Linked DNA regions of Homo sapiens. The protein of the gene in region 2 interacts with the protein of the main gene of each other region in a biochemical or structural test. Each region holds a gene or a part of one and is shown on either strand. Other genes may lie near its edges. The genes, in order: GORAB, RAB6A, RIC1 and ERC1.

Region 1 (7,087 bases), on a different chromosome or scaffold from region 2:
CCACAGCAACCCTGACCTTACAGGAAATGAAGGGGAACTAGATATGGGTGTTTACAGAGTGCCTTTCATGGGATACTTCTTTTACCTGGTAGACATCCTAGTTGTCTGACCCACAACCAGGGGGTCCCTCACAGGGTGATCTCTTTTATACTGGCAGACACCCTTGTGGCTCTTGTCTGACCCACATCCACTCAATGCCTTTCTGACCACTGCTCTGGCACTGGGAGTCCAACCTGTGTTTCTCCAGGGCAAAACTTGGTCTGGGGTAGCCCCATGTTCTCCAGATGGAAGGCACAAATTCAATACACAACCACAATAGGAAATAAGTTCAAAGATTTTTACTTACAGATCCTGAGTAAGGAAGGCATAAGGGTTAGAAAGGCAGTCCTATATCCCCAAGTCGTAGGTAGAAATGAAGAGTCAGGCAAAGGAGCAGGGACAGGAAAGGAAGAGAGGCAACTGGCAGTATAAAAAAGGGAATTGGATGGGTCACTTTACATTCGAGGATAAATGCTGGTAAAGCAAGGAGCTCAGTCTGTAGACAGAAGAGATGAGAACTTTTAATTAGTGCTGTAAAAAGTTATAAAAAACATAGAAGTGGGCGGGTGCTACTTAGATAGGGTGGTCATAGAACGTCTATGTGAATATTTAAGGCCAAAGCGTAAAGAAGCAGGAAGAACCAGCCAGACAAGGGAAAGATAATAATTAAAGGACAGCATTTGGGAAAGCTCTGGGTAGGTAGTAGAGGATAGTAGAAAAGAGAGTCTGGTGTATTCCAAAACCCCAACGAATGCCAATTTTGGCTGGATTATAGTGAGTGCAGAGTAAAGGGAAAGACAGCCTAATGATCACATAAGAGAGGTAGACAGGGGTGAGATCATGTAGGAACATGCAGGAACTGGGATTTTATTCAAAGTGTGCTGGGAAAGCATTTTACTGTTTTGACCAGGCTACAGACACAATTAGTCTTCATTTTTATATTCTAGGCGCTCTGATGGAGAATCAACCAGAGATATTGTCTAAATTGTCATAGGTGGTCCCCTTCTATAAACACATAAAGATGCTAAATACTGTATAACATGTTCTTATTTATGTAAACAAAAAATATATATCACAGAGCCTAAAAGAAAGCAAAGAAGATGTTGAAAGGGGGGGCCTCTACCTAGATATAGGTCCTGGGGATTGGGATTCCTACACATAATTTGAAGACAAGATTGCTGAAATAAAGCTGAGTCTAGAAAAGACAGACCATATGATCACAGAGGGTTAGAAAAACTCCAGGCACAGTGGCTCATGCCTGTGATCCCAGCAAGTGGGAGGCCCAGTTGGGCAGACCGCTTGAGCTCAGGAGTTGGAGAGCAGCCTGAGCAACATGGCAAACCTCGTCTCCACAAAAAAATATAAAAATTATCCATGCATGGTAGTGGGCACCTATAGCCCCAGCTACTCTGGAGACAAAGACATGGAAGGATCGCTTGAGTCCTGGAGACAGAGGTTGCAGTGAGCTAAGATCATGCCACTGCACTCCAGCCTACGTGACAGGGTGAGACCCTGTCTTTAAAAAAAAAACAAAAACACAAAAACTTAAGACTGTTGCTTTGGAAAAGCAGTAAGGAGGCTTGCTATCTGTGAGTAATATTATTATGTTTTTTGTTTACATAAAAACATATAACATGTTTTTATTTACATAATCAAAAAATACATCATAGAACTTAAAAGAAAGCTAAAGAGATATAGAAAGGGGGATTCTATGTAAATATAGATCCTAGGGATTGGGATTCCTTCACATATTTGAAGACAAGATTGTTGAAATAAAGTTGTGTATAATTTGTATACATATAAAGGCAATTAAAAAATACTGAGACCTGAGTCCTATATCATATATGGGGGTGGGACCCAAGAACCAAATTTACAGTAGAAGCTGAAAAAATTACCTTAAATCTGGATTAAAACAACTGAAACTTTAGGACCAATAAAACCAATCTGTAGAGACACTTTCTTAACTCAAGGAAGAGAAGACTTCTGCAGAACAAAGAACTTTGAAGATAAATTCCCACTTAAATATTACACAACATTTGAAGAAACTAGCCACCATGAGGGAGAGCCAACAGAAACAACAAACAGGAGATTTAGAACCTAGCAAACTGGAAATTATAACTTTTATACAGACGGATTTTATTATCTTTTACCACGTGTCACTTTCGCTTTGGTTCTCATTAAGGGCCAATGCAAAACCTTTTAAAATATCCTAATTTACATCTTTATTAAGATTACGGATAATTTTTGAAATTCCCCCAGAGTGAACTAAAGAACATTTATGTATAAAATTCAACATGGGGCACACAAGGTGGTTTACTGTTATTAGATGAACTAGATGGCGGTTGCCTGCAACTAGGAAACTGAATTAACTACCAGATTGCCACTGATCCCCATCTACTACTTTGGAGCTAGATAATCTATAACTTGAATATACGTAGTCTATATTCAGTCTATATTCAGAAACTGGTGGTAACTGTCTCCTCCAGGCATTTTGATTGTTTAATATTATAAAAAATGAGTACATATTTAAAATGACGCATCTGCAGCATCCCCAAATTTCAGAAACCACTTTAAGTTTTAAAAGCTCGGATTTACATGGGAAATTCCAAACATCCTTCACTTTTTATCACTTACTAAATCTGAAGTACTCATTTCAACTTTTCTTGACGTGTTTTATTTTGTACTTTACTCCTTTCTTTCATTTTGTTTAAAAATATCAACACACTAAAGCCAAAGTATTTTAAAATGTAAGCCAAGATGAGGTGTTTTGTTGTTCTTACTGCAAAAATAGTGAAAGAGAACCATGAAAAATAGTATAACTAGGTCTCTCTTGAATCATCCTTATCTATGTGTATTTTGACAACGCTTGCATCTTTTAATCTTTGCAACCATATTTCAAATGAGGAAATGGGATCTCAGGTTAGTGTTCAAGGCAGAACCCGAATTACGGTATTAGGATTCCAGGCAGGATCCTAAGAAATGCTTTCCCATCCCCCAGCACCGACGTTTTACAATGTCTTCTCTGAAAAACAGATTTAAAGGGGAGACTAAGAAATCCCGGCCGGGCGCAGTGGCTCACGCTTGTAATCCCAACACTTTGGAAGCCCGAGGCGGGCGGATACCCTAAGGTCAGGAGTTCGAGACCAGCCTGGCTAACATGGTGAAACCCCGTGTCTACTAAAAATACAGAAAATTAGCCGGGTGTGGTGGCCGGCGCCTGTAATCCCAGCTACTCGGGAGGCTGAGGCGGGAGAATCGCTTGAACCCGGGAGGCGGAGGTTGCAGTGAGCCGAGATCGTGCTATTGCACTCCAGCTTGTGCAACAAGAGCGAAACTATGTCTCAAAAAAAAAAAAAAAAAAAAGTAAGAAAAAAAGAAAAAGAAATCCCTTAAGAGGAAAGTTACATATTATAATTATTCACAAAGGAAACAACCCAAAGCAAAAGAAATCTGAGAGCCGCTCCGGCCTGCGAGAGACCTGGTTATGCCTGTTCCCTTTTCATCAATTATACCCCACCCCTTTTAAATGTTTCTTCATCATCAAAATCCTAAATCTGATCATTTCCTGAGTTAATCTGAAGGAGGCCTCCAGCGCTGTGCACACTCCCAGCAAAACACAAGGATTTTAGGGCACACTAAGAGCCACAGAGAGCACCGCTCCCGCCCCACAGGTACAGGACCCCAAAGGCACTTAGATCTCCCGTTTCCGCCACCGACTTGTTGCTCCTTCCCAAATACCTGTTTATCTCCACCCTTATCCCCATCGCCATTTCCCCCCTTAGCTCCTGAAGCGATTAACCAGCAACAGTGAGAAACAATGAGAGAGAGAGAGAGTAGAGGTAAGCCAGAGGAAACGAATGTCTGCGTGGCAAGGTTTCCTTAGGCAGTTTGTCAGGCACTGCTGAAGGCAGCCTGGAAGGAAGCCGGACCCTGAGGCCGGGGAGAGAGGGCCTTGTGTTTGGAGCCCGATGCACTGATTGGCCGCGGCCGGGGAAAAACCCGGATGAGCTGGGCAGCAGTGTTGGCAGTCGCGGCTGCGAGATTTGGGCACTTTTGGGGGTGCCGGTGGCCCGGGCCGATGGCGCAAGGTTGGGCAGGATTCTCTGAGGAGGAACTGAGGAGACTAAAGCAGACTAAAGGTTACAAGATGGGTTTACAGTGGTTTAATTCTTGGGTCTTAAGGGGAAGAGGCGGGGATGCAGCTTTGGCGGGGAAAGGGGGCGTGGAAGCGGCTACGTTTGTGTTAGCGGAAGGCGCTGTAAGTACGTGGACTGGATTAGGGGGTTTCAGAGGAGGACTTACTGGGAGTCACGACGGGAGGGGCAAGCCAGAGGACTGGGATCTTCTTTTAGAAAAAACGGTCCAGGAATCCACTGTAGGGATTTGACTCTTGTGAAAGGAATGGGACTTGGGAGAGGAAGTGAGCCTACAGCCGGGGTGTCTCCCTTAGGGAAGATTGCTGCAGGAATCAACGGTTGGAAGGTTAGGGTCAGGGTAAGGGAAGGAGGAGGGGCGCACACCGTATTAGAATTGTGATGAATTTATAGAAGCAGATGGTTGGAAAAAAGGAGCACAGGCGTCTGAATAAAGGCAAAAATTCGGTACTTTTCACAATTCATCTGGAGTGTTGCATTCACTTCTGGTTGCCAGATGATTTTTGCAGTACTTCCCAATTTTTGAGAATCAGCAAACCAAAAGGGTCTTTGAGAGGGTAGATGTGAAGACTTTATATGTTTATATACATACAGTCTTACTGACTTTGGAGTAAGCTAACCTTGTGCTTCTCTCTCTGGCTTTATAGAGTAATCATTGAATGGGCTTGTACAATTTTTTTGTTGTTGTGGAAGGAATTAAGTTTGCTGATTGTTGGTGGAAAACTTAGTAATATTAATTGCACTTTGCTTGTGGTTGAAATTTCGCAGTGATCTGTATGGTTATCGTGGTAGTACACACAATTTCTGTAAGAAGTGTACATCACTCTTGGTACCTTAATTCAAATACTTTATTTTGGTAGCAAATGAAGTAAACCTTTTGTTAGCGTTTGTGGGGAAATTGGATGTTGCTCTGGTAGCTTGTGCATTTTTAGCATAAATATGAGAATAATCTAGGGCAGACAAGTGGGAAAAGAAGTAAATTAGTAAGATAGGGCCAATGTAGATTATATCGACTGGGGACATTTTGACTGGTCCAGGGGACTTTAAAAACTCTATCATAAAGGTTAGGCTAAGCTATGTAGTTAACTGACTCTGTGTTGCTTGATATACTCAAATTCTTTTGCTTTGTGTTTTCAACATCCATTCACATACTTTGATATACAGGGTACAAGTGCCCTGGCCTCTGGTCTGACTCCAGTAGACTCATGAGGAGACAAACCACAAAGTTATGTGATAGTAGATATTGCAAGAACTTGCTTCAGAGACAAGAGGAACCTCACTCTGCCGGGGATTGGATGGAGCTTGGGAAGATTTCACAAAGTTTGTGTGTTAGCAGAGGCGCATTTTCCAGGGTAAAGATGACTTAATATAAAAATCTAAATTAAACAACATATTCATTATGTAGAAGTATATTTTGAAATATCTTTGCAACCGGGGGTAGATAGAGGATGGTGAGGACCTGAACTTCAAGGCCCACTGTAGTGTGGAAACCAAATCGCTAGTCCGTGACCACCTCGAGGACGGAAAATATCTTAACCTCCTTGTATACCCGTAGCTAAACACAGTGATTGGCATATAGAACTTCCAGCTCTTCCTCTAAATCTTTTCTCCTTGGATTCCTTATTTGTAAAATTAGAGGATTTGGCCCTTTAATTTTAAAGCCATTTCTAGCTGTTCTCTATCTTTAAAAATTTATTGAATAATTTAGGAAGATGGAGTTGGTTGCCAGGAAAAATAAGGACAGTAGTACTCTGGAGACCCCTGTATGGGCATTGAGGAACATAGTCAAGAAAGTTGTTAATAGTCTTGTTTATAATATTAAGAAGTTGGAAACAACCAAAGTGTCCATTAACAAGGGAATGGATAAATAAATTGTGGTATACTCATCTAGCGGGCTACTGTACAGCTGGTGGGAATATATTAGTATTAACTGTAGCCACATGCATTAAAATGTTTGTTAATACAGTATATGTAGTTACACTTGGCCCTTGAACAACACAAGTTTGAACTGTGATGGTTCACTTATACACAAATGTGCATTTAAAAAATACAGTATTTGGGGGATGCAAAACCTGAGTATATGGAGGGCCAACTTTTGGTGTATGTGGTCTTCACAGCGCCAACTGTGGGACTTGAGTATGCACAGATTTTGGTATACATGGGGATCCTGGAACCAATTATCCTCATATACCAAGGATCAGCTAGCTGTATATATAATATATACAGTCACGCACTCAATAACAGTATTTCAGTTAGCAGCGGACCACATATATGGTGATGGTCTGGTAATATTATAATACCCTGTTTTTACTATGCTTTTTCTATGTTTAGATACACAAATACCGTTGTTACAGTTGCCTACAGTCTTCAGTATAGTGACATACTGTACAGGTTTGGAGCTTAGGAGCAAAAGGCTGTACCATATAGCCTAAGTATATAGTAGGCTGTACCATCTAGGTTTGTGTAAATACACTCTCTGATGTTTGCGCAAGGACAAAATTGCCTTACAACACATTTCTTAGAATGTATCCCTTTGTTAAGTGACGTATGATTGTATATAGTGGGGAGGCGTGGGAATGTGATCAGGGAGAGGGAATTTCAGAGGTATTGGTATTTATGAAATCAGGTTAAGACAAGTTAAGCTAAAGTAACAAATAGCCCTAATAAGTCAATTGTTTAAAATAAAGATTTGGTTTTCACTCGTTTCATGTTTAATGTGGGTTTGGCAGGTGACTGTGTTGCACAGTCACTCCGTTTTTTGGTGCTGTCTTGTAGGAGTTTACCATAGTAGGAAGAAAAGAAGATTGAAAATTGAACATTGGCAATTAAATCCTTTCACCAGTAAATGACATGTGACACTCCTACTTTTATTTACCAAAAGCAAGTCATATAAC
Region 2 (5,966 bases):
TTTACAGTAAGGGGTTCAGCTATGGTTGTCCCAAGGCAGGGGTTGCCCTTTTCTCTGTAAAGGGCCAGATAGTAAACAGTTTTTTGGGTTTTAGGGCCATAAGGTCTGTGGCAGCTATTAAGCTCTGCCATTATAGTGGGAAAGTATGGCTGAGTTCCAATAAAACTTAATTTTTAAAACTGGTTCCAGGCTGCATTTGGTGGGAGGGCCACAGTTTGCTGGCTCCTGTCCCAAGGCAAAGGTATAGTTAGGAGTGAGGACGCAAAAGCAGAACTTAAGATGCTTTTCTTAATATGTCCTATTACTGCCTCCACCAGGGGATGTATCTTTCAAGTTGCAGCCCCTCTCCCCCACCCCCCAACAATACCCCCATCAAAAAAAGAGTCTTTGACTCCCTAGGAGTTCCTCACATTTGTTGTTGTTATTTTTCTGGATTCTGTCCATGTCTGCTTTAAAGGTCTTCCCAGAGAGGGAGAAGTAAATGCTAATTCACCATCTTGGCAGGAATGGGAAACCAGGTCAATAATTGTTTTCTTTCGTGTTTTATTTATATATTTTTGGCAGCAAAATTGTGTTTATTAAAAAAAAAACCTGGACTATGAACACACTTCAATGCTTTGAAGAACTCCAAGCCAAATAAAAAGACCAATCAATATTAAAAGCAGTATAACTGGTTACTTTCTTAAAAATACATAAAAAGAATCAAATGCAACAGTGTAGGAAGACAATCACACCCATGTCAGAAGTCACAACTTCTTCCAAATAAAGAATATGACCCATCTGCCATATTGAATCAATATTTATTTCAGGACATGCCATGTCAAAATAAAACAAAGAGTCAACCCTTGCCTTTAACAATTATATTGTATTATAAAAGCACTTTACAACTCCATCCCATCTTTAAGTATAAGTTACTGGTATGTGGGCTAATGATTATCTGTAAGCATTTCTCTATTCAGATCCATAATCCAAGTGCTCTCTGAATATTACAAGGTGACAATAAGTGGGAAGTGGAGGAGGAAGAGGAAAGAGAGGGGACTAAGGTTCTCCCAGTTTAAGGTTTTGTTCCAATGAGGGGATGAGGAAGTATGAAGATATTTTTGTTGTCTTTTCATCTTTATACTGTGTTAAGTAATGCTTACAACATAAATTCAGCAGGCTTTTCCTGAGCTGTAACTCAGAAGTTTTCGTCCTGCAAACAATGTATTTACAAATGTGTTTATTAGCTTACACAGCAATCTCACAATAACTAGTAAAGATTAAAAGGGCACACTCCTAGTATATTTGTTTGCAGTGTTTTAAGGGAAATACATATTGCCATGGTGAAGCTCTAAATAGATTCAACGAAACATCTGAAGATTGAAAGTTGTTAAAAAAAAAAAAGGCAAAGAAATAAATATCACCAAAGAAAAAAGATTAATTGTAGCTTAAATATAAAACTAAATCACCAGTTAATTAAACTATACAGATCTAATACAAACCAAAACCAGCCTGAAAGACCCAACCTTAAAAAATGCTAAAAAATAAGGCATAAATCTGCATAATATTGAGTTTTATTTCCATTCTCTCCTTTCCCTCTACTATGTATGCTTTACCTGATCTGCCTCTAGGGGCTTACAAGAAAACGGTTTCCGGTTTCCGTCTTCAATTTGACCTCAAATGTCCTGAGCAAAGTTTTTGTTATTCTGCTGAGGGTTCTTTTGTTGGTAAGCTTTAGACATCATTATTTCTACTAATTCAGTAGTTTTGATCGTAGCGCCAAATTTAAATTCTTCCACTGGTTCTTCTGGAAGGAATTAAAACTTTTACAGTGCCTTGCCTGCACAGTATTATGTTTTTAAAAAAGAAAACCCAAGCAAAATCTATTGCTTAAAGAGGTTTCTTATTTTTTAAACAAACAGAATAACTCTTGACAATTTTAAAACCTTGGGAGAAACAGTTCATTAGAACTTCATTTTCTTACCGTGAAGAATTAAATACTAAAAACCTGTTCTGAAGCACTTGGTTAATTTTCTCTCCCAGAGTCTAATAAAGCACATGTGAAAGAGCCATTTGTTTTAGTCAGAAATACATCTTATGTTCTTCTACTTCTAAGTACTCAGTATGTTCTTTAGGACTCATTTTGAAGATGCACCAGGAGCCTTTTCTCATTCAAGCACTGCCTACCATGATGGCTGAATTTTGACCTCAAAGAAGACCGTAATTTATATCAGTGCTCAAGAATAATTTTGGACATCTTGGTCCGTAGCCTACAGCAAGTGGTATCTGTAAAATTAAAGGATAATTCCAATGGGCTTGGTAGAACTGCTGCTTTGCCATCTCTTGTTTGTTTTGAGGAAGTCGGGGGAGGCTAGGTAAGAATAGGGTAATAGGGAATGGGGGTAAGTGAGAGGTGAGAAAAGCAAGGAGAGATAAAGTAGGCTGTGAACATACCGCTCGTTAACCAAGCCATACTCATACTGTTGAGATTTCCATCATTTTGAAGTACATTATCATAACATTAAAAAAGAAAAAAATGTTAAGAAAATGTATCTAATTTTTAAAGTTATCACTGGAATATGCTGAAATATTTTGGCTTTTTGTAAAATATAAATAATGAAGACACTGACTTTTGTTGTGCTTGTGAAGCTAATAGATCATCTCCACGAGACAGGCAGCAATGATGAATTGCAATACGTTATTACTGAAGGGAAAAGGTTCAAGCCAATATTCACACTGCAGTCAATGAAAGAGTAAGGGGGCCAAAGCAGTGAGCTTCTGAAGAAGGTTGAAGATGACATGGGAGATTAGCAGGAACAGCCTCCTTCACTGACTGGTTGCTCCTGAGGCTTTTCCAGTTTTATGTCAATCACTGAAACAAAAGTTAAGAAGCCATAAATGGGAAAGTACAATTTCAATTCTTCCAAACACTAGCATTTCTGGGATGGCCCTTATATTCCTATCTGTCTTCAGAGCCTACACACTCACTATTTTCTACATAGCCGCCTCACCATATAAGGTGCTCAAATGGAATAAACTTGTTTATATCTACTATATGCAACAAGGGTCAGAATGAGGTACAAGCTCTATTTATGGGTATCTATCCTAAGGAACTTATTCTACAGTGGCAAGAAGTGATATGAAGATGATGTTCCTCATAGAATCATCTATAATATAAATCTGAAAATAGCCTACAAGATAGTTCCAACAGCAGAGGAAACATTTAGTAAATAATGGGACTTCAGGCCGGGTGCCGTGGCTCATGCCTGTAATCCCAACACTTTGGGAGGTTGAGGCAGGCCGAACACCTGAGGTCAGGAGTTCAAGACCAGCCTGGCCAACATGGCGAAACCCCATCTCTACTAAAAATATAAAAATTAGCTGGGCATGGTGGCTCATGCCTGTATTCCCAGCTACTTGGGAGGCTGAGGCAGGAGAATCACTTGAATTCAGGAGGCAGAGGTTGTGGTGAGCTGAGATTGCGCTGCTGCACTCCAGCCTGGGCGACAGAATGAGACTCCATCTCAAAAAAAAACGGCGGTGGGCGCGGGGACATACTTCAACTCAATAGAACATTTTTTGTTGTTGTTGTTGTTTTGTTTTTGAAACATATTATGTTTTATGTTGTTGTTGTGTTTTTTTTTTTGGGGGGGGAATGGAGTTTCGATCCTGTTGCCCAGGCTGGAGTGCAATGGCGTGATCTCGGCTCACTGCAACCTCTGCCTCCTGGGTTCAAGCAATTCTCCTGCCTCAACCTCCTTAGTAGCTGGGATTACAGGCGTGCACTATCACGCCCAGGTAATTTTTTTATTTTTAGTAGAGACAAGGTTTCTCCATGTTGGTCAGGCTGGTCTTGAACTCCCGACCTCAGGTGATCCACCTGCCTTGGCCTCCCAAAGTGCTGGGATTACAGGCATAAGCCACCGCGCCCGGCCTGTTTTATGTTTTTTATGAAAACATATAACATTTACAAGTGGGAAGAGCTGAATACAAAGTGCTACAAACTATATGGCTTAATAAAAATGCCTGCATATGGAAATACACTAGAAGGTGAATATGAAACACTGAAAACATCAAATTAAAAATCCTTAGAATTAACTAATATTAGATGTCCCAATCCTTGGAAATGAACTAATATTATGTCCTGTTTCTGAAAGCAGAGGCTACAATAAAGCTCCACTCTATTTCTTGCCTGTGTCAAGTAGAAAGCTCAAGTGTTAGAAAAAGAAATGAAAATTTGATATTCCATGAGGAAAAAGCCTAGAGTCAATGGGACTCAAAATGAAGAGGCAAGGACACAGGGATTCTAAGAGTTTCCTGCTCATTTAAAAGCAAGCAAACAAACACAAAACCTCTCACTGATTAACAACGAGAAGCAGGCTGCAAAGGGTGCACTTGGATAACCAGACCTCATTTGCTATAGAAAACAAATGAATTTCTATGCCTTTAAGTCATCAGTTCCTGGTTGTAAAAGGCAATGGCACAATATTCTTTAGCCAAGCAAGCAGGGCTCTAAAGACTAGTGTTAATAATGAAAAATTTCCAATGAAATAAAAAGGATACTATCTTCTCTGCTTCTGTCCTGTGTGCTTTCCATTCCCGGCAAAGCTGCTGCTACACGTCGAAAGAGCTGTGGGAAAGAGAGAAAAGTGATAACTGAGAGGGAACATTTAGCAAAGGGTACTGAGGTTTATGATCACTGTACAGTGAGCTGTCTAATGCTGGGCGCAGTGGCTCACACCTGTAATCCCAGCACTTTGGGACCCACCCGAGGTGGGCAGATCACTTGAGGTCAGGAGTTTGAGACCAGCTTGGGCAACATGGTGAAACTCTGTCTCTACAAAAAAAAACACAAAAATTAGCCAGGCGTGGTGGCACACGCCTATAGTCCTAGGTACTGGAGAGGCTGAACCTGGAGGACTGCTTCAGCTCAGGAAGTGGAGGCTGCAGGGAGCTGAGATCACGCCACTGCACTCCAGCCCGGGCAACAGGGCGAGACTCTGTCTTTAAATAAATAAATAAATAAATAATAAAATAAAATGTCTATTCATTCTATAAACGAGTATTATATAAAAAGCAATATACCAAATACAAAGAGGTATAAAGACATGATTCCTGTTTTTTTAACTGGTGGGATAAGACAAAAGTAAACAGCTATGAAATAAGCAGCAAAAATGTCATTTGAATAATAAAGTATTACAGAAACGCAGAAAAAGGACAGATCATTCATTTAACAAAACTGTATAGTAGCATTCCTATCTTTCATATAAAGAGTGAGGTTCAGGGCTGGACGCGGTGGCTCACGCCTGTAATCCCAGCACTTTGGGAGGCCAAGGGGTGTGGATCACGAGGTCAGGAGTTCAAGACCAGCCTGGACATGGTGAAACCCTGTCTCTACAGAAAATACAAAAATGAGCTGGGTGTGGTGGCACATGCCTGTAATCCCAGCTACTTGGGAGACTGAGGCAGGAGAATCACTTGAACCTGGGAGGCGGAGGTTGCAGTGAGCCAAGATCACGCCACTGCATTCCAGCCTGGGCGACACAGCAAGACTTCTTCTTGGCGGGGGTGTGGGGGGGAGAGTTAGGTTCTGAAGTCAGTGTATAATATATTGTGAAACTCAGTCCAGTCAAAATTATCCTTCATCGTTCATTAGAAAAGCACTATGTTAGAGATTAATACACCACCCCTCAAGTCCAACACAGCTGGCTTTTCTTCCATCATTGGAATGAGTGTCAGTGGGAGTGGCTGGCTTGTGTTTGAGGTATGAAGCTATGAAAAGTTATCTTCAACAGGAGAAACGCACTCAAGCCTGGTGAGATGTTTACTTTTGAGAGGCATATGAGAACAGATACTGGAACAACAGTTTATACTTCTTATATTGTCCCAATCTTAGGCATACACCCACTGGGTACAACAGCCAGTGAAACTGCCTGATTATTTCAATTATTTATCTTTTAATTAAGCACACAGTGTAAACCCATAAA
Region 3 (7,029 bases), on a different chromosome or scaffold from region 2:
AGGAATTTGAGAACAGCCTGGGAAACATGGTGAAATCCTGTCTCTACAAAAATTAGCTGGGCACGGTGGCATGCAACTGTAGTCCCAACTATTTAGGGGGCTGAGGTGGGAGGATCACATGAACTTGGGAGGTTGAGGCTACAGTGAGACGAGATTGCACCACTGCACTCTAGCCTGGAGAATAAAGAGAGACCCTGTCTCAGAAAACAAGAAGAAAAACTTCAAATAAATAACCTAATGATGCCTCTTAAACAACAAGAAAAGCAAGAGCAAACAACCCAAAATTAGTAACAGAAATAATAAAGATGGAGCAGAAATAAATTAACTTGAAATGAAGAAAATAATGCAAAAGACCAAAGAAACATAAAGTTGCTTTTTAGAAAAGATAAACAAAATTGACAAACCTTAAAAGAGAAAACCAAAATAAATAAAATCAGAGATAAGAAAGGAGATATTACAATTGATACCGCAAAAATTCAAACGATCATCACAAACTACTATGAGCAACTATATGCCAATAAACTGGAAAATCTAGAGGAAATGGATAAATCCCTAGCACATACAACCTACCAAGATTGAATCATGAAGAAATTCAAAACCTGAACAGACTAACAACAGTGAGATTGAACCTGTAATAAAAAGTCTCCCAGTAAAGAAAAGCCCAAGACCTAGTGGTTTCACTGCTCAATTCCAACAAACATTTAAAGAAGAACACCAATACTACTGAAACTGTTCTGAAAAATACAGGAGGAGGGAGTACTTCTAAACTCATTCTATGAGGCCAGGATTACCCTCATACCAAACCCAGACAAAGACACATCAATAAAGAAAACTACAGGTCAATATTTCTGATGAACACTGATGTGAAAACCCTCAACAAAATACAAGCTAATGAGATTCAACAATATATTAAAAAGATCATTCATCATGAACAAGTGGTATTTATTCCAGGGATGCAAGGATGGTTCAACATATGCAAATCAATCAATGTGATACATCATATCAACAGAATGAAGGACCAAAACTATATGATCATTTCAACTGATGCTGAAAAAGCATTTCATAAAAATTCAACATCCCTTCATAAAAACCCTAAAAAAACTGGGTATAGAAGGAACATACCTCAACATAATAAAAGCCATATATAACAGACCCATAGCTAGTATCATACTGAGTATGTAAAAACCGAAAGCCTTTCCTCTAAGATCTGGAACACGACAAAGATGCCCACCTTCACTATTGTTATTCAACACAGTACTGGAAGTGTCCATCAACAGATGGATGGATAAAGAAAACATGGTACTTGCACATAATGGAGTACTATTCAGTTACAAAAAAAATGAGATCCGGTCATTTACAACAACATGGATGGAACTAGAGGTCATTATGTTAAGTGCAATAAGCAAGGCATAGAGAGACAAACATCGCATGTTCTCACTTATTTGTGGGATCTACAAATCAAAACAATTGAACTAATGGTGATAAAGAGTGGAAAGATGATTACCAGAGGCTGAGAAAGGTAACTGGGGGGATAGGAAGGGAGGTGGGAACGGCTAATGGGTACAAAAAAAGAGAATGAGTATGACCTAGTATTTGATAGCACAACAGGGTGACTACAGTCAAAATAATTTAATTGTATATTTTAAAATAACTATGAGTACATATGGATTGTTTGGAACATGAAGGTTAAATGCTTGAGGGGATGAATACCCTATTTTTCATGAACTGATTGTTACAAATTGCACGCTAGTATCAAAATATCTCATGGCTGGGTATAGTGGCTCATGCCTGTAATCCCAGCACTTTGGGAGCCCGAGGTGGATGGATCACTTGAGCTCAGGAGTTCAAGACCAGCGTGGGCAACATGGTGAAATCCCATCTCTATAAAAAATTACAGAAAAAAAAAAATTAGCCAAGTGCAGTGGGGCACACCTGTAGTCCCAGCTACTTGGGAGGCTGAAGCAGGACAGCTGCTTGAGCCCAGTAGGCAGAGATTGCAGTGAGCTGAGATTGTGCCACTGCACTCCAACCTGGGCAACTGAAGTGAAACCCTGTCTCAAAAACAAACAAACAAACAAAAAAATCATAAATATATACCTACTGTGTTCTCACAAAAATCAAAACACTAAAACTTAAAAAAAAATTGCTGTGCCACACGTATGACAAATACCTTAAATTCATTAATATTAAAAATGTTTATTAAACATCTTCCTTGTACAAGGCACTATAGATAATACAAATTAAGATAGTTTCTGTGCTCCAGAAACTTATAATCTAGCTGGAGAAATAAAGCATAAGTGCAAAACTTACGATATAAAGCAGTAGTTCAAAGGAAAAAGCAAAATTGTCTCTGAAGATGACATAATCTTATATTTAGAAAAACCTAAAAACCACCAAAAAATTTAGAACTAAGAAATGAATTTAGTAAAGTTGCAAGATATAAAATCAATATACAAGAATAAGTTGTGTTTCTACACAAGAACAATGAGTATCTAAAAAATAAATTAAGAAAACATGGCTGGGAGTGGTGGCTCACACCTATAATCCCAGCACTTTGGGAGGCTGAGGCAGGCAGATCAACTGAGGTCAGGAATCGATACCAGCCTGGCCAACATGGTGAAACCCTGTCTCTACTAAAAATACAAAAATTAGCCGGGTATGGTGGCAGGCACCTGTAATCCCAGCTACTCAGGAGGCTGGGGCAGGAGAATTGCTTGAACCCAGGAGGCAGAGGCTGCAGTGAGTTGAGATCGCTCCATTGCACTCCAGCCTCGGTGACAAGAGCGAGACTTTGTCTAAAAAAAACAGAAAAAGAAAAAGAAAACAATACCATTTATGGTAGCTCCAAAAAACTAAATACTTAGAATACATTTAACCGCCACTAAACACCATAAAATGCTGATGAAATAAACTGAAGAAGGTACAAATAAATGGCTGGATATCTTATGTTCATGGATTGGAAGAATTAATATTGTTAAAATGTCCCTACTATCCAAACCAATCTATGGATTCAATGCAATCTCTATCAGAATTTCAATGATATTTTCACATAAACAGAAAAACAATCCTAAAATTTATACAAAACCACAATAGCCCATGAATAGCCAAGGCCATCTTGAGAAAGAACAACAAAGCTGGAAGTGTCACATTACCTGTGTGTTAGTCCATTTTCACACTGCTATAACAAACTTCCCTGAGATTTGGTAATTTATAAAGAAAGGTTGAATAGATTCAGTTCCATAATGGCTGGTGAGGCCTCAGGAAACTTACAATCATGGCAGAAGGGGAAGCAGGCACTTGTTACATGCTGGCAGGCAAGAGAGAGACAGAGCGTGTAGAAGGAACAGTCAAACACTTATAAAACCATCAGATCTCGTGAGAACTTACTATCACAAGAACAGCATGAGGAAAACTCCCGCTATGATCTAATGACCCCCTACCAGGTCCTGCCCTCCATACATGGGGATTATGAGGATTACGATTAGAGATGAAATTTGGGTGGGGAAATAGAGCCAAACCATATCAACCTGATTTCAAAGTATATTACAAAGCTATAGTAATCAAAATAGTATGGTACTGACATAAAAAGAGATACATAGACCAATGCAACAGAATGGAGTCCAGAAATAAAACCACGCATGCATATATAGTCAATCTTTCACAAAGTGCTAAGAATGGAGAAAACACATCTTGCAACACTGACTTTTCAACACCATAGTGTTAGAAAAACTGGATATCCACATGCTAAGGAAGGAAACTGGACCCTTATCTTACACTATCAACTCAAGAAGGATTAAAGACGGAGGGGGAAGGAAGGATGGTTAATGGGTACAAAAAATAGAAAAAATGAATAAGGACTGGGTGTGGTGGCCCATGCTTGTAATCCTAGCACTTTAGGAGGCTGAGATGGGCAGATCACTTGTGTCCAGGAGTCTGAGACCGGCCTGGGCAACACAGCAAGACCACATCTCTTCAAAAAATTAACTAGGCATGGTGGCATGCATCTGTACTCCCAGCTACTCAGGATGCTAAGGTGGGAGAATTGCTTGAGCCCAAGAGGTCGAGGCTGCAGTAAGCCATGATCATGACTCTGTACTCCAGAGTGACAGAGTGAGACCCTGTCTCAAAATAATAATGGTGATGATGATGAATAAAATCTAGTATTTGATAGTACAACAGGGTGACTATAGTCCTGTATCAAAATATCCCATATACCCCACAAATACACAGATCTACTATGTACCCACAAAAATTAAAATAAGAAGAAGGATCAAAGACTTAAATGTAAAACCTGAAACCATGCAAATCCTAGAAGAAAACAGGGGAAAAACACCCTGACATCTGTTTTCACGATGGTATTTTGGATGACATGGAAAGCACAGGTGACAAAAGCAAAAATAAACAAGTAGGATTACATGAAATTAAGTTATTGTACAGTAAAGAAAACAATCAACAAGATAAAAAAGCAACCTATGGAATAGGAGAAAATATCTGCAAACCATACATCTAAAAGGGGGCTAATATTCAAGATATGTAAGGAACTCATACAACTCAGTACCGAGAAAAAAACAAAACAGATAACCTAATTTAAAAATGGACAAGAGATCTGAACAGATGTTTTACCAAAAAACAGCCAATGGCCAATAGGTGCTCAATACACTAATCATCAGGGAGATGCAAATCAAAACCATAAGATACCTCACACCTGTTAGGATATCTATTATCAAGAAGTTAAATCATAACAAGGTCGGCAAAGACGTGGAGAAAAGGGATCCCCTCCCTGTACACTATTGACGGGACTGCAAAATGGTACAGTCATGATGGAAAACAGAAGTTCCTCAAACTAAAAACAGGACTACCACATGATCCAACAATCCTACTTCTAGGTATATATCCAAAGGAATTGAAATCAGTATCTCAAAGAGATATCTGCACTTTCATATTCATTGCAGCATTATTCAAAGTAGCCAAGATACAGAAACAACCTAAGTGTCTGTCAATAGATGAATGGATAAAGAAAATGTAACACACACACATACACACATAAAATATTATTCAGCCTTTAAAAAACAAGGAAATCCTGCCATCTGCAACAACATGGACAAAACTTAAGGACAGTATACTAAGTAAGCAAGACAAAAAACAACTTCATGATCTCATATATGGAATATAAAGACGTCAAATTCATAGGAACAGAGAATAGAACGATGATTACCAGGGGCTGGGAGGTGGGTGAAATGGGAGTATTTCAGTCAAAGGTACAAATTTTCAGGTATAAGATGAATACGTTCTGGGGACCTAATGCATGGCCCAGTAACTATCGTTAATAATGACATTTATTTCCATAATTAACATATATTGTATACTTGAAATTTGCTAAGAGAGTAGGTCTTAAGTGTTCTCATCCCACATACAAAAAAAGAGGGAGCTGTGTGAGATGGTGGATCTGTTAATTAGACTGATTGTGATTATCAACTCACAGGGTAGATCTAAGTATCGCACAGCACACCTTAAATATATACAATTTTTATTTGTCAATTATACCTCAACAAAGCTGGCAGTAGTGGGGAAGCAGTAGTTCATCAGAAAAATGAACACTTATGGTTACGGTAGGTAAAGAATGACTCATAAAGAAAGGATTTCAACAGCAGTTAAAGGATAGATAATACTCTGACAGGCAGAAATGAGGCAAGAGAGCATTCCAAGAAGGGAGTGTCTGTGATATCAAACTAAGGAGTTTGAACTCCATTCTTTCATCAACAGTGAACCCTAGAAGACTTCAGAGCAGTGAATTTATAAAGAAGGCTCTCTGGAGAAAGTAATAGAGTTAAAAGGGTGAGAAATGGGAATGCTGGGAAAATACAAATAAAATGGTCTTCCTGAGGTCAACACAGTTAATCACATACCTGATCCAAAGCTTGGTTCTTTTGACATATCATTGTTTTTTTCCATGATTAGCACATACCAATGGGAACTAAGTTTTTGCTCAGGATTACTAAACGACATATAATTTATTTTATAAGCCTAGTAATTATTTGCCCATTTCAGCTTTTTATTAGCTACCTACAACAGTGATATCTCACAAGATTTATATTAACACACTAACATCTAACACACTAACATATAACATGTCTCTTCATCCCTTTTATACACATCTGTCTTTTACAGTTGATGTTCAAAAATACTTCTGAAGCTAATTTAAATGTTTAAAGTCGGTGACCTGAAAAACGAGAATGTCTATACATCTAATTTAGAATGGCTAAATTCAAAGATACCATTCTGATGTTCACATATATAGACTTTCATAGTCACAGTTAGTATATTAAAGGAATAATTCTGGGCCCTCAGTACAGTACAAAATGTAATTCATCTCACACTACACCTACGTCAATCATAAATCATAACCTACCTTATGCAACAGTTTCATCCTCAAAGCTGAAACTAGTCCTTTTACAATAACCTTAGCAGAAATGTACCAACTGCCCCCAGTCAAGTTCTACCTCTACCACCCCAATCTAGCCTACACATACTGAGCCTTTTTTTAACACCATTTGGGGGGCTCCAAAATATAATATTGGGGCTCCAATATAAAAAAGCTAAGTAACTATCTAGAGGCTCTTTTGTTCATAAACAACACTATACTGTATTTCTCAAATTTGGGGTAGGAAATAATTCTGAAGAGATATGAGTCTAAACAGTGGAATTCCGAATACCTACTTAGAATAGAGGACAGTAGGTATAAGTAGTACATAAAAGTTCATTAGAAGACCCATATAATGTACAGTTAGAGATTTTAATAGAGATTCAGTCTTATGAATTATCACTGTACACATACAATTTCCACAATTCTTTTGAACATTGAAACAACCAGCTTAGACTACTAAACGACTGTCCCTTCCACAAGGCTAGTTGTCTCTTTTTAAAATATATCACTCCTAAGAGAGCCTGATTTACTAAGTGAGCCCTAACAAAATTTCAGGTAAGCAAATCTTGTTTTATCATCTCTACGAGCATGTCTCCCTGCCTTCA
Region 4 (7,495 bases), on a different chromosome or scaffold from region 2:
AAGCTTTTTTTTTTTTTTTTTATCATAGTAACTGATTATTCTGTTTAATTCTCTCTTTTCCGGGCGTTTTCTCTCCCAGAACTCCTACCCTTCTGTTCCAATCTAACTAAGTTCCTGGGACTTCCCTTTACTGTTTTCCTGAATTGGATCTAGTGATTACTGGATGTTGTCAGATACCCTGATTTCTCCCTCATTTTGCTTGAGCACACATTTAAGTAACTCTTTTTTAAAATTTATTTTTATTTTTTGAGATGGAGTTTTGCTCACTGCCCAGGCTGGAGCGCAATGGCACAATCTCGGCTGACTGCAACCTCTGCCTCCCGGATTCAAGCAATTCTCCTGCCTCGGCCTCCTGAGTAGTTGGGATTACAGGTGCCCGCCATCATGCCTGGCTAATTTTTGTATTTTTAGTAGAGACGAGGTTTCACCATGTTGGCCAGGCTGGTCTCAAACTCCTGACATCGTGATCCACCCGCCTCAGCCTCTCAAAGTGCTGGGATTACAGGTGTGAGCCACCGTGCCCAGCCCGCCAGTTTGATTTTTGTCCTTTTATGGGCTCCTTTTTTTCCTCTTTGGAAACTTAGAATCTTCTTTATATTTAGAGTTCAAACATTTCACATGGTTGAATTTTTTTTTTCTTTTGGTTCTGCACTAGTGGATTCTTTCAGTTCTAGGAAATTGTCTTGCATTATTTTTTCAATAATTTTCTGTCCTTCATTAACTTTGTTTTCTCTTTTTCACATAATATTAGTCCTGTTGAACTAATTCTTTATCTTATTTTCTCTCACAATTTCCACCCCTTTGTATATTTATTGTTTTCTTTTTTTTTTTTTTCCTGAGACAGGATCTGGCTCTGTTGCCCAGGCTGGAGTGCAGTGGTGTTATTTCAGTTCACTGCAACCTCTGCCTCCTGGGCTTAAGCTATCCTCCCACCTCAGCCACCTGAGTAGCTGGGATTACAGGCATATGCCACCATACTTGACTTATTTTTGTATTTTTTTGTAGAAAAAGGGTTTTGCCATGTTGCCCAGGCTGGTCTTAAACTCCTGGGCTCAAACGATCTGCCTGCCTTGGCCTCCTAAAGTGTTGGGATTATAGGCGCAAGCCACTGCACCCGGCCCTATTTTCTTTTTTCTTTTTTGAAATAAGGTCTCTTGCTCTGTCACCCAGACTGGGGTGCAGCTTCCTAAAGTGTTGGGATTACAGGCGCGAGCCACTGCACCCAGCCCTATTTTCTTTTCTTTTTTGAAGTAAGGTATCTTGCTCTGTCACCCAGGCTGGGGTGCAGCACCACCATCCTGGCTCACTGCTCCGTTGACCTCCCAGGATGAGGTAATACTTACACCTCAGCCTCCTGAATAGCTAGGAACACAGGTGCGCATCACCATACCTGGCTAAGTTTTAAAACATTTTTAAAGAGATGGGGTCTCATTATGTTGCCCAGGCTTCTTCTATTTTCTTTAAAAGTTCAGTGACTTTATCTTTCAATATTTTAATTGAATTTATAATTTGGCAATTTATTTTAAATTTCAAGATCTATTTTTAAACCTTGGATTGTTACTTCATCTGAGTATCCTAGTATACTAATTAGGTTTTCCTTTCTAAATTCTCTGAAGTTTCTGTTTATCTGCCCCCACAGTCCATGTTGGAGACTTTTCTTAAATACCTAATAACACTTAGTTGTCTGTTCATACGTATGAGGCAGTTGGAATGCTGATGGGGAGTCTTGTGAACTTGGGAGGTGTCTTAGTCTATTTTATGTTGCTATAAAGGCATGCCTGCAGCTGGGTAATTTATAAAGAAAACGGGTTTGTTTAGCTCACAATTCTGCAGGCTGTACAGGAAGCAAGGCACTAGCATCTGCTCAGTTCTGGTGAGGGTTTTTGTGCTGCATCAAGACATGGCGGAGAAGGTCAAGGAAAAGTGTCTGTGCACATGCAAAGAGAAATCAAACCCGAGGTGAGTCCTGGCTTTACAACAAACCACTCTCCAAGGAACAAATCCATTCTCCTGATAACCAACATAGTTTCGCAAGTGTGAGAACTCACTACTGTAAGAATGACACCACGTCCTTCATGAAGAATCTGCCCCCATGACCCAAACACCTCCCATCAGGACCCACCTCCCAATACTATCACACTGGGAATCAAATTTCAACATGAGATTTGGTAGAGACAAAAAAACCATATCCAAACCATAGCAGGAAGTTCCTGCCAACTTGCCCAACTACACTTTAAAGTGGGTGGGTAGGAAACCAGCTATTGTGCTAGAATAAAGAATACTTTACTCTTAGGCCCTTCAATACTCAGTTAACCCAAATCTCCCCAGATTATCAGAGTGCTTAATTTTAGCCTGGATAAATGCCTAGATATTGTATCTGAGATATAGGGAGGGTTCTGCTCTTCCTTATATAGACCTTTATTTAGTCTCCCTGGTCTCAACTCTGCTTCTCACTCTTGCTCTGTCTGGTAGTTATCTCCAAATCTCCGTCTCCCTAAAGCACTTCTGGGCTGACAGGTCCCCTTCCTTTCTACAGCACCCTCTACACCCATTCTACATTATGCTTTTCTCCATTTTATTTTGTCAGACCACACTTACTTTTTGCATGTCAAATAAAAAAAAATTATCTTCCGATGTCCCCCTTCTCATTTTCTATTTTGTATCACTTTTATTTATCATCATTTTATGGGGTCTCAGGAAGAAGAGACAGTAAATACATGTGCTCGGTTAGCTAGCTTTAATCAAAAATCCTAAACGTAGGTTTTAAAAAAGATAACTGGAGCAGGGCAGGAAATAATATTTTTTGCCAGTGTGGTGGCAAAAAATAAAAAACAAAAATCTGAATCTGTGTTAGGACAGTATTTCCGTGTATAACATAGCGCTTAGCAACTTAATTCTCCAGATCCACATATTTTAAGGACATGATGTATCTCAGACACCTACTTCAAACCTCACTTTACAGTTAAGTAAGACCACAAGTAGAATGAATTGCCTGAGGCCACACAAGTAGACAGTGGGAGAATGAGAACAGAAATATCTATTGACTCCTAGTTGAATTTTCTCTTACCTTACCACACTGCTAGGGAGTAACAAGATGGGCAGATCACGAGTCAGATGAGAAAGGTCATGAAAAATAGTCAAAGGATGACTTTTCCTGGGTAAATAGCCGGATGTCCAAGAAATGAAAGGCTGGTCTGGCAGCAGCACATCGTCTAACAGTTGGTAGTCATATGTGGGAAGTACTGAAGGGGGAGATGACAGCAGGCCCAGAAACTGCAATGATCCAAGTGCATGTCGATCCTGGGAGGGAACAGTTAAGAGTCCGGGCAGGATGAAACAGTAGAAACTGGTGAGTGAATGAATGTGAAGGCTGAGGAGCGACTGCAATTTGTTAATGGGATTATGAGGCAGTATAAAGTGGTTAATTACGGTGGCGGAGGTAAGCAGGAGTAAAATGATGGCTTTTAACTCCTCTCAAGGACACCGAAAATTATTTTAATAAACACTGGAAGGCTGGGAATAAATATAATTCACACCATTCTTACTTTCTTGGTTTAGAGATAGCTTATCTACATCCTTAAATTAATGGCTGTAGCTACCCTCTGCATGGCTCCAAAAAAAAAACAAAAAACAAAAAACAAAACCAAAGCCGGCTGCGAGTCTGCACGAGAAAATCGGGTTGCACCAGGCCCCAGCCGCCCGCCGATTCGCTTAGCTGTCGGAGGCTAAATAAACAGCTCCCGAAGCAGCGTTTGGCACAGCGCAGGGTCGGAACGTGGACACTAATTTCCGCCCACGCTCCCCGCGTCCTGGCGGGATCACCACAGACACGACGTCCATTGCTGGGGTCCTCGGCGATGCCCGTGTGCGCAGCCCCGCGAGTCTCAGGTCAGAAGACCACTAATTTCGCGGCCGCGTTCCACGAAGCTAAGGGGCAAAAAACCAGCTTTCTTGGGACAAAGCGTCCCCCCAGCAGCCAGGGTCGATCCCGGCGCTGCTCCCGCGGCGCTTGGCTGCCCCGGGCGTAACGGGCCACGAGAAGTAGGGGGTGGGGCGCCGCTTAGGTTTGGGAAGACACGAAGCGGCTCCTCGGGCTTCCAGCGTCCACTTCCTACGGCAAGCAGGAGGAGACAAGCGCCACCCTGCGCTCGCGGAGCCGACCCCGGCTCTCCCCTCCCGTGGCCGCAGGGGTCGTGTGTGTGTGTGTGTGAGTGTGTGTGTGTGTGCAGGGACGCTCCGCGCCCATCACTCTGTTTCGGTGCTAATCGACCGCCGTGGCGCCGATTTCCCCCGCTTCCCAGTTCCTCACCCGCGTGCCCCGGAAGGCGCCCGGAGGCCCCCGGGCCGCCGCGTCACGCTCCCGGGAGGCTGAGGGAAAGGGAGGCAGCCGAGCCGGGAGCCCGGGGAGGCGCGCTGCGCCCCGCGGCGGGGCTGGGGGCGGGGCTAGGTGTCTCGCGCAGGGGGCGGGGCGCGGTGACGTCGCGGGCGCCTGGGCCGTGCTGTGGCGGCGGCGGCGGCGGTAGTGGCGGCGGCGGCGGTGCCTGGGCGGCAGCAGCAGCAGTAGCGGCAGCCCTGAGGACGGTGAGACGGCCGCGGCGGCGGCGACAGCGCGGAAGTCGCGCGGGACCCAGAGCTTCCCCCCTGTCGCTAGTGCTGAGGCTTTCGCCTTTCCTACCCAGCTTCTTGCTCACGGCCCGGGCTGGGCTGGGCAGGGCAACGCGCCCCCGGGGAGGGGCGGAGCTGTAGGTGAGGCTTCGCGACCCCCTCCCCCTCCTCGGCAGCCCGGGGGGTGGGGAGGGGCGGGCCCCACCCAGACCACCGGCGCCCACCCGCGGGCTCCACCCAGCCGGGCTCCGGGATCGGGCGGGAGCCGAGGCGGTAGATGTGGGGATCCTGGGGCGGGAGGTGGGGGAGTGGGGACTGGGGCTCTGGGCACTTGGGGAGCGGAGGGGGGGAGGCTTAGGACTAGTGAAGCCGCGGACGAGGTAGTGGGGAGACGGAGAAATTGGGGAGCCATGAGGTTGGGGTGCGGTCAGGGTGGATCTTTGGGTTAGGTGAGTGATGTAAAATGCTGAAGATGATTCTTTTCTTTTCGATGAAATGGTGAGATAAAAGATGAAGTGTATTTCAAAAGGACGATGAGCTGTGCATGTTGCCTTTGAGGCAGTTGCAGAACCTATTTTATTGCACTAGATCTCACGTTTCTACTTTAGGGTTCGATTCTTTTTCTTCTGGCGGGGTGGGTGGGGGGTCGGAGAGGGAAGAGAATCCCCTTACTTTGGCTCAGGTAAATTGTGAGCGTGGATGTATCTGAAAGTTTTACACCGAAGAAGAGGGAGATCTTCGGTTTAGACAACTTCGTTCCGGCAGCCACCATTTGGGTCGCATTACGCTTAGCTCCTTCAAGGTGGTGTCTTCCAGTTTTTTTTCCCCCCAATGCCTAAAAGATCTCTTTATACCACCCTTTTACAGGCTTTATCCTGGCCCCTTGAGAGAAGGCCCCAAACTCAGGTGGTTGCTTTGGAAGGCACATTGCTGAATAATAGTTGCAGGTGGTTGTGGTTGACTGCTTTGGGTGGATAAAGTGAACAATTGGAATAGTTCTGTTGGAGCTAATTATATGAAAAATGCTTAAATGTTTTAAAGTACAACCGTCTTTTATAGCGTGTTGCTTGCTCAGTACACCTTGACTTTTAGACATTTTGTGTTCAGTGCTAAATTGTTGAAATTTTATTTCTCATTTGCAGTTATGTTTCTTGCAGTCTTTATTAAAACACTTTAAAATGAAATGGAACTCTTTTTTTTTGGTAGGCTCCTCAATTTCTGAGAAATGTTCTTGGAGTCAAGTGCTTTAAAAACATTTTGGGGGCAGGTGTGTCACTTTGTATGGAAATATTAGAGTAAGCAGTGTTCAATGTTCTTCACATCACTCTTTCACAACTTAGCACTGTAAATCAGAATCTTCTTTTCTGGATTCTTGCTCCCTGTTAGATTACAGTATTCTCTGGCCCTACTTATCAGTTAGTGTCATTTAAGCTATTTCTTGTTCAGAAAACAGGTCCCATGATGGACATGTATTATGTAATGGATGGAAGTAGACATGGCTCTCAATAATTCATTTATGGAGGAAGAGAAGCTGTCAGAAAGTGGGATTTAAGCAGTGACTTTCCCAAGGCTTGCCTAGTTTATTTGGGAAAATAGCCAGAGAAGTGCTTTCTTGTAACCCAAAAGAGAAATATACAGATAAGAATTTCAGTAGTTGCAGATCGTTGCTTTTTCTAAGTGCCTACTTAATGAGCAGATTATTGTCTTCCAGCAAATACTTCTACTTTATAGAGAGGTATGGGAAACAGGACATAATAGGTATTAAGTGAGAAAGTGTGTGTTCCAATTTTTAATTATAAATAAAAGATTTAATTAACTGTATTCAGTTAATTCATTTGGTAAAGTGAACAGTTTTGACTTTGGATTAGTTAGAAGGAAAACAAAATTGACATATCTAGTTTTCGCTTTTAAATTATACATAGACTTAATTAATTGGGACAAATGTGAACTAAGATACTGGGTAAAACTTGTGTGTACTCCTAAAATGACATTTGCATGGCTGGTAGTAAGCTGTGATTCTTGTCCTTGTAGGAATGAAATCACATAATTTGGGGAAAGTCTTAAGGTAAAAGTAAGCTATTTCGTTTAGCATTTCTTGTGCCTGAAATTATGCCTACATTTTATTTTTCAAAAAATGTTGCTTGCTAGTCATTACTTGTGATATCCTTGTTGAGTCTACTGAGGTGTTTTTTTTCCTTCATTACCTGTGTCATAGATAAGTATGCCAGTCTGTTAATTCAACATTAATACTGCAAACTTAAAAGTGAAGGTTCTTGGCCGGGCGCCGTGGCTCATGCCTGTAATCCCAGCACTTTGGGAGGCCGAGGCAGGCGGATCATGAGGTCAGGAGTTCGAGACTAGCCTGGCCAACATGGTGAAACCCTGTCTCTACTAAAAATATAAGAATTAGCTGGGCGTGGTGGCACATGCCTGTAATCCCAGCTACTCAGGAGGCTGAGGCAGAAGAATTGCTTGAGCCTGGGAGGCAGAGGCTGCAGTGAGCCGAGATCATGCCACTGCACTCCAGTCTGGGCTACAGAGCGAGATTCCATCTCAAAAAATAAAAATAAAAATTGGCTGGGTGTGGTGGTGCACACCTGTAACCCCAGCTACTCAGGAAGCTGAGGCAGGAGAATTGCTTGAACCTGGGAGGTGGAGCTTGCAGTGAGCCGAGATTGCACCACTGCACTCCAGCCTGAGTCACGGCAAAACTCCGTCTCAAAAAAAAAAAAAAAAAAAAAAAAAAAAAGTGAAGGTTTTCATAGCAACAGCTGCTCGGTTTTACACTATGTTTACATTTAGAAGTATGAGAGTTGTTAAATGTGTATTTTACACATATTTCATCAGAAACATTAATGGAAAAAGATCAAGAAATGAAGTATTTTGGTTT

What was found.
Region 1: the proteins of RAB6A (region 2) and GORAB form a complex in vitro, tested with the Homo sapiens proteins (one study listed by BioGRID).
Region 3: the proteins of RAB6A (region 2) and RIC1 form a complex in vitro, tested with the Homo sapiens proteins (one study listed by IntAct).
Region 4: the proteins of RAB6A (region 2) and ERC1 form a complex in vitro, tested with the Homo sapiens proteins (one study listed by BioGRID).

Annotation. Positions count from the first base shown.
Region 1 is NC_000001.11:170,528,107-170,535,193, forward strand, and holds the start of GORAB (RAB6-interacting golgin), read left to right. Parts: upstream 1-4,059; 5' UTR 4,060-4,117; coding exon 4,118-4,178; intron 4,179-4,341; exon of another isoform or gene 4,342-4,503; intron 4,504-5,357; exon of another isoform or gene 5,358-5,545; intron 5,546-7,087.
Region 2 is NC_000011.10:73,675,112-73,681,077, forward strand, and holds the end of RAB6A (ras-related protein Rab-6A), read right to left. Parts: intron 4,610-5,966; coding exon 4,543-4,609; intron 2,852-4,542; coding exon 2,787-2,851; 3' UTR 527-2,786; downstream 1-526. UniProt on the Homo sapiens protein: The small GTPases Rab are key regulators of intracellular membrane trafficking, from the formation of transport vesicles to their fusion with membranes.
Region 3 is NC_000009.12:5,632,106-5,639,134, reverse strand, and holds part of RIC1 (guanine nucleotide exchange factor subunit RIC1), read right to left. Parts: intron 1-7,029. UniProt on the Homo sapiens protein: The RIC1-RGP1 complex acts as a guanine nucleotide exchange factor (GEF), which activates RAB6A by exchanging bound GDP for free GTP, and may thereby be required for efficient fusion of endosome-derived vesicles with the Golgi compartment.
Region 4 is NC_000012.12:986,742-994,236, forward strand, and holds the start of ERC1 (ELKS/Rab6-interacting/CAST family member 1), read left to right. Parts: upstream 1-4,481; 5' UTR 4,482-4,581; exon of another isoform or gene 4,582-4,746; intron 4,747-4,808; exon of another isoform or gene 4,809-4,878; intron 4,879-7,495. UniProt on the Homo sapiens protein: Regulatory subunit of the IKK complex. Probably recruits IkappaBalpha/NFKBIA to the complex. May be involved in the organization of the cytomatrix at the nerve terminals active zone (CAZ) which regulates neurotransmitter release.